2 linked regions of the Homo sapiens genome follow. The protein of the gene in region 2 purifies or fractionates together with the protein of the main gene of each other region. This does not show direct contact. Each region holds a gene or a part of one and is shown on either strand. Other genes may lie near its edges.

Region 1 (2,728 bases), on a different chromosome or scaffold from region 2:
GTGTGTCTCACATCTCCACTCAGGAGAGACGGCCCCTGGAAGCATGATGTGGGGGAAACAAGCTGGGTCATTTCCTACAAGGTGGGCTGTAACCAGATGGCTTCTCAGCCCCACCCAACTCTGCGCTGCAGTATGAGGGGACCAGTTTGCGCGGAGCGCTGGTGGGCAGGGGCGAAAGGTGGGGGGTGGCAAGCCCATCTTACCTTACTGCCAGGACTCTCCTCTCCTCAAGAGGGCCCAAAGGGCCCTGAGTGCTGCCCTCCCAAGAGAGCCGACTTAGAATGACCTCCAGAAGGCACTGTGACCTTGGTAGTGTCTTCCCTTCACAGAGTCCCAAAGGGCCCAACTAACTCCCAGACAAGGTGCCACTGGCAGCTGGCCATTCTGAGGCCTCTTACTAGCTGCAGGAGGGGAGTGACTGACGCAGGCCCTGTGTCCACACCCCACTCCAGCCTGTTCCTTCACTGGCATGTGGTCAGATTGAAAATCCAATACAATAGCCCCGATTCTCTGAAAGGCCCCTTCCCCAGGAGAAGCAGATGGAAATTACAGCTGGGAAATCACATCCGAGGTGTCTCCCCCTCCTGCGGAGCCATAGCCAGAGATGAACTTCAAGGTCCTTTGAGTGGGTCTCCCAGCATGGGCCCTGGAGCAGCAGCATCAGCATAGACCTGGGCACTCGTTAGAAATTCTAATTCTTAGGCCCCACCCAGGCCTGCTGAATTAGAAATGTGGGTAGGACCCAGAAATCTGTGTGTTAACAAACCCTCTGGGTGATCCGCGTTTGAGAACCCCTGGTCTGGGCAAGCCCTTCATGTCATAGAGGAAGAAACAAAGAAAGAAAGCCAGAGAGGAGAATGGACATGGCCAAGGCCACGCAGCAAAATGACGGGGCTAGGACCCTGCTGGGTCTGCAGATGGCAGTTCAGGGAGGACACCAAGGAACACCCTCATTGGCCCATTCTACCTGCTAGCTCTCCCTCCCTGAGCTGTTCTTGAAGATGCTACGCCCTCCTCCAGCACCGAGCCCAGGGTGTTTGCTCAAGTTTCCTCGTGGGGGATCAGACAGCTTGGAACCGGGGCTGGAGAGGGAAGCCCTGAGCCCTCAGCAAACATCAGCGCCAAGGGCGGTTGGATCCCTGCCACTTGGGTCTCAAGCAAATGTCCTGCGGCCATCAGAGAAATTCTTCCTGGACCAAGGGATGCCTGAGGCCCTTTCCTTGGACAACTCTGACTCCAGTGCCCCGGGGCAAGCTTTATTTCCTGCTCCAAGAACACGATTCTTCACACAAAAGTCAGCAATCAGCGGTTTCACAAGACTTCCCTCCCCTCCCCCCACCCACAGACAGACACACAGAACAGATCCAGCACATGCTCTGCGGCCCGGCCCCGCCCCACCCGTGCCCGCTGCTGAGAGGGCGGCGCCATCCAGATCCGGGAGAACCCCGGTCTGACAGGTGAGGCTGACTGTTGAGGGACCCCTCTCCGGGACATGGATGCTCCCAGAGGAGCCAGCAGGGGTTGGGGTGGAAGAGGGACACACAGCACGCGGATGGGCTGTGGCCTTAGTGTGGGAGGACCACAATCGTCCTGTCTTAGCTTAAGGATGGGTGTGCCATCAGCAATGGGTGGTACAGGGGGAGTACTGGCAGAAGAGGGAATTTTGGAAAGGGGTGGCCTGGCTGGAGACAGATGGTCAATCTGTCAAGACATCAAAGACCCCAGGGTTGCCACTTCAGCCTCATGCCATGCTCAGCACACGACAAGGGGCTGAGGGCGCCCACTAGGCAGGGCTGGAGAGCTCCTCTGGCCCCACCCCACCCTGCTGACTGGCTCCTAGGAAGCCCTCTCAGCCATCCATCCTAAGTTGACAGGCTGTCCACACTGATGAAATCTCCCCCTCCCTGTTGCTATCTTTCCTCAGGATGGCAAGAACCAAGGGCTTAGCTTCCTCCCATGACTTGATCTGGGGCCACACTGATCGGCCTGCCCACAGGCCTCGGGGACCCAGCATCTCTCTGTGGCTCCGTGGCAAAGCCCTGTGAGGCTGCACAGAGAGCCCACTCCTCCTCCAGTGCTCCTGTGATCTAGTCACTCCACAGCTTCAGGTTGGGACCAGCACTTGGGACCCTTTCTCTGCCACTTGAGACTTGGCCCTGGCCCCACTTGGCATCTCCTCGTCTCCACCCCCCTCCCTGCCTGAGGCCCAACCCCTTCCCTGCCCGGTGTCCAGATGGTCTCCTGCATGGGCAGGCCTGTCCTTCCAGCCCTGGCCTGGCCTCTGTGGCCTGCCCCGGGTCACCCAGATGGGTAGTAGGGGGTATCACTATGGTAGTTGTAATCTGGGCACACCTTCTGGACCAGCCGATAGTCCGTGCTGTAGAAGGCGATGTAGACACAGACGACTTTGAAGGGCTGGGAGCAGCTCCAGGTGGCTGAGCTCTGAGCGTGGTCTCGGGAGCAGATCTTGGCTGGGTCGTGGGTGCAAAGCGAGGTCCGGCGGCCCCGTTCTACCTTCTCCCACTCCATCCGGCAGTTGAAGATTTTGGAGGCCTTGGCTTCGATGAAGATCTGCTGTTCCTGGTGGAACTCTACAGCTTTACTGGGGGGCACGAGGCTGATGGAGATGTTTCCCTGGCCTGTGGCATTGTGTTGGAAGTGGACGCTGAAGGTCCCATTGCCATGGTCCACAATCTTCCCTGTGACGAGCAGGTTCAGGGCCACCGTC
Region 2 (4,142 bases):
TCACTCATTTCCACCCGCCTACCTCCCTCTGGATGTCCTGCCTGCACCTCCGAGTCACATGTCCAACACCAAACCCCTTACCTTTTCTTCCCTGCTCCCTTAAACCTCTTTTGTCAACTTCTGGCCACGCAGTCTCAATCTCTGGACAAGGGTACCAAGAAAGGAAGAATGCATTCACTTGCCAGGAACCTAGATTTTGCATCAAATATCTCAACTCTGTCCCCTCTGTCCTATACCACTTTACACTAAACCTCTCATCTGAACTGCTATAACACTCTCCTTTTGGTATTCTTAACTCAAGTTTTCAGTACACACTATTGCTAGAGAAACATTCCTTAGGTGTAATTTTGATCAAGCCTGGCACTCAGGATACTCTACCCAACATTTCTCAAACTTTAACGTGCATGTGAATCACACGGTGATCTTGTTAAAATGCAGATACTCTCATTCAGGGAGTGTGGGGTGGTGCCCCACTCCGGAGTTTTAACATACTCCCAAGTGACAATGATGCTATTAGCATCAGACTATATGCATATACAGTCGGCTCTAACCTATTTTTTCTATCCTCATCTACTTCTCCCTGCCTAGCATACATATGTGCATGTCTATATCGCTTACGTACACACACACACACACACACACACACACACACACACACACACAGACATACACAGAGACAAAATGTTTTCCAAACATAATCTCCGGCCTCTGTGCCTCTTGCTGTTTCCTCAAGTCCAGTGACTTTCCATTACAATTTTACCCATTTTTCAGGAACCAACTCATTCTGCCACAACCTTCTCTTATCTTCTTACCTACCCTCACTCCCATACCTCACCTAGTAGAACACCACAAAAACCTTGGGACATCCCTGACACTGGCACTGTTTCTAGTCTGTAATGTTGTTATAGGTCTTCTCGTTTCATCCGTACTGTTAGACTGCACACTCTCCTGGAAGGCAGGAACTACCTGCCTAACCTCTGCCACCCAGGGCATCCTTGGGCTCTTGTTAACCAGTAAGTACCTGTTGAAGTGGATTTGAATTCTAAGAAAAAGAAAACGTCTCAACTCTACTTCATGTAATTCATTTTGAGCAGGAGCTTCAGAAATTTATGATAAACAAAAACACTCTTCCAGGAAAACTGACTCATTAGCAAACCTAAGAAAACTTTGTTTTATATATATATATTTACAAATGTTTATATATTCAAATGGTGCCTAGAGAATTTTAGTACTTATCCTATTTATAGTAGTCTCCAGATATATAGATCAAAGTTCTAATATTAATTTAAAATTAAATCTAACTTGTTACGATCTAGTAATGACTATAAGTCTAAAATATGTTCCAATCCAGAGCCCAGCCTTCCCTAGTTTAATTTACTTAATGCTCCCTTTAGCACTCCATTTATAAAATGGGACATCACTTTCTCCACGGGTGTGATAAGATTGGCTGTCCCCCAAATTTACTGTTAACATGCCTTACATTGTGTCTAGACTTTGAAAAGTGCTTTAAAACAATCACCTTGAAGTAACATTTTTTGAATGCTGAGAAACTCAAAGAAAACCCTATATTAAATGTTTATACAGTAAACCCCTTATTCAAGAACCTAACCATGGCTCTTAGGTTCAAGAACCAATATTCAAGAATCTGACTATAGCTCTTAAACTTTAGCGTGCAAGAATTATCCGGCGTGCTTGTTAAACACGCAGATGCCAGGCTCTTACCCAGGGAATGTCTCATTCAGTAAAACTGGGGTAGGGCCTAGAAAACTGTAGATTTCACCAGCAACCCCAGGTGATTCGGATGCAGGTGTTCCGCAGATCTCAATTAGACACTGATCTCAATCCTTGTCCGGGGGCACTACAGAGTTGTGTTTGAAAGAAAATGCAGACGTCTTTTGCTAAAGTCCTTTCTCAAAACAGCTGTCACGCCAGCACAGACAGGAGGTGATGTGCGTAAGGAAAAAGAGGGAAAGGTTCCTTGGAAGAGAATCAATGCCCGAAAACAATGAAAGAGGGGAAGTGGCGTTTCTTTGCAACCCTGGAATTCCATTCTCCCGCACCTGCGAGGATGCTGCTCTGACCCGTCGGCCAGCACCAGGCCCTCGGGAGCCGAGCCCAGGCAGGTCGCTGGCCGGGGGATGGGAGGGCGTCGTGGCCCCGCGCTCGTCCCCAGGTCGCCAGCTGCCCTCCGCAGCCGAGGGAAGACGCCCGCCCGGGTCCCGGATCTCCGCCCCCCTACACCGCATCCTCCGCGGCTCGCGCGCGTAAACAAGTTGCCTCCCCCGGGTCGGCAGCCCCTCACCTGCCGCGCGGTCGCAACTCTGTCTCATCGTCTGGTTCCGGACCCCGAGGCTCCTGCTCTCCCGCGGCTGCCGGCAGCGCCTCAGCGTCCTCCACAGTCACCTCGGCCGCAGCCACGGCGCCCGCCGCCGGTACTCGCGTCGCTGAGGTGGGAGCAGCGGCCGCCCCGAGGCCGAACGCCGCCTCCGCCGTCGGCGCTGGGAGGCCACGGGCGCGCCCCGCGGCCACCGTCCTTGCCGCGAGCCCCAGCAGCAGCAGCAGCAGCAGCAGCGCCCGTACCAGCAGCCCCGGGCTGATGGCGCGCTCCATCAGCGTCCCGCCCCGCGCGCAGGCATGGAGGCGCAGCCACTGACGCCTGCCTCTCCCGCCGCTTGGAGCTCCCAAGAAGGCAAGGACGTGCTAGGGACCCTACTGCCGCCCCGACGGCCTGGACAGCCAGCCGTGTTCCCCTGGCCACGTCTCAGCCCGGCCTCTGCCGCTGCCACCTGAGTGACAGCCTATCTCGGACATCGCCCATTGAGCAAACTTTCCGCGCGTTTGCTCTCTCATTGGCTGCGGCCGCTGCCACTCCATGTTCCCAGGCTGGCCTTGTTGGGGAAGGTGGACTTTCCCTGGTGGTCAACATCGCACCTACCAATCAAATCGTAATTTCGTCGTTCGAGGCCCGTCCCTCTTCCGGACGCAATTACCAATGAGAAATGCCCTTCCCCGACGTCTTTTTACCTGATTGGTGCGCTCATCAGTTCCCGGAATACCTTTCCTACAACAGATTGGCCATCGCGGTGGTTGGCCTCGCCCCACAAAGCGAGGCGCTGGAGAAGACTTGAAGATCATTGGTGGAAGTGGATGTCCCTCAAAGGTCTGCGCTAACTGCCTCTTGATTGGTTGGAAGCGGCACTTACTACGTGGCGGATTCTGACTGTGAAGAGGACTGTCCCAAGTGAAGAGTGGGAGGCAAGTGCCTTGTGACCGGGAGGAGGTCGACCTTAAAGGAGCTGGTATTGTAGCTCTTCTAAAGCCTAGTCTACTTAGGAAGGCAAAAGCGAAGCAGCAAGAAGTGGCCACAGAAGCCGTGTGGTCCCTAGAAGTAGAAGGGTAAGGAGGATGCAGGAGATGGTCCTACTTGTGGCCGCAACGGGGCTCAGAAGTCCGCTTGTTAGAGATGGCAGTGACCTGTGACAATCCAGTCTGCCCGACACGCCTCCCGCCTCCTTAGGAACGGGAAGGAGCCCCGGCCCAGTGCACTGACGTAGTTAGCCTAAGATCACGTAGCTGGTTGGTCACAGAATCATGACTTTAATTCATGTCTTCTGACTCTGACCTGGCACGCTTTGTACCTCACCAAAGACAGTGATGAAATTGCAAAAGGGCAGAGTGGAGAAGACTGGAATGTTCAGCCAAGGCATTTGAACTTTTAATGCTGCAAGTCAAGACTTCCTGAAGATTTTTGAGCAGATGAGTGAAGTGATAAGAAAATGCATCTTCAGCAGTGACAGCATCAACGAGGAGGAGACTGGCCGGGAGGCTATTACCCGCATCAAAACCAGTGAACATTAAAAAAAATTTTTTTTTTAGAGAGAGGGTCTTGCTCTTTTGCCCAGGCTGGAGTGCAGTGGCTTGACCATAGTTCTCTATAACCTTGAATTCCTGCGTTCAAGCGATCTTCCTTCCTCAGCTTCCGGAGTAGCTGGGACTACAGATGCGTGCCACCATGCCAGGCCAATTTTTAATTTTGTTTTGTAAAGATGGGGTTTCTGTGTTGCCCAGGTTGGTCTCAAATTCCTGGCCTCAAGCCATCCTCCCGCCTCAGCCTCCCAAAGTGCTGCAATTTACGGGCATTA

What was found. Proteins that work in one complex are often made in the same cells at the same time.
Region 1: the proteins of EIF2AK3 (region 2) and NXPH3 purify together in Homo sapiens (co-immunoprecipitation; one large-scale study listed by IntAct). This does not show direct contact.

The regions. Positions count from the first base shown.
Region 1 is NC_000017.11:49,578,871-49,581,598, reverse strand, and holds part of NXPH3 (neurexophilin-3 precursor), read right to left. Parts: coding exon 2,299-2,728; 3' UTR 1-2,298. UniProt on the Homo sapiens protein: May be signaling molecules that resemble neuropeptides. Ligand for alpha-neurexins.
Region 2 is NC_000002.12:88,624,665-88,628,806, forward strand, and holds the start of EIF2AK3 (eukaryotic translation initiation factor 2-alpha kinase 3 isoform 1 precursor), read right to left. Parts: upstream 2,801-4,142; 5' UTR 2,611-2,800; coding exon 2,303-2,610; intron 266-2,302; exon of another isoform or gene 82-265; intron 1-81. UniProt on the Homo sapiens protein: Metabolic-stress sensing protein kinase that phosphorylates the alpha subunit of eukaryotic translation initiation factor 2 (EIF2S1/eIF-2-alpha) in response to various stress, such as unfolded protein response (UPR).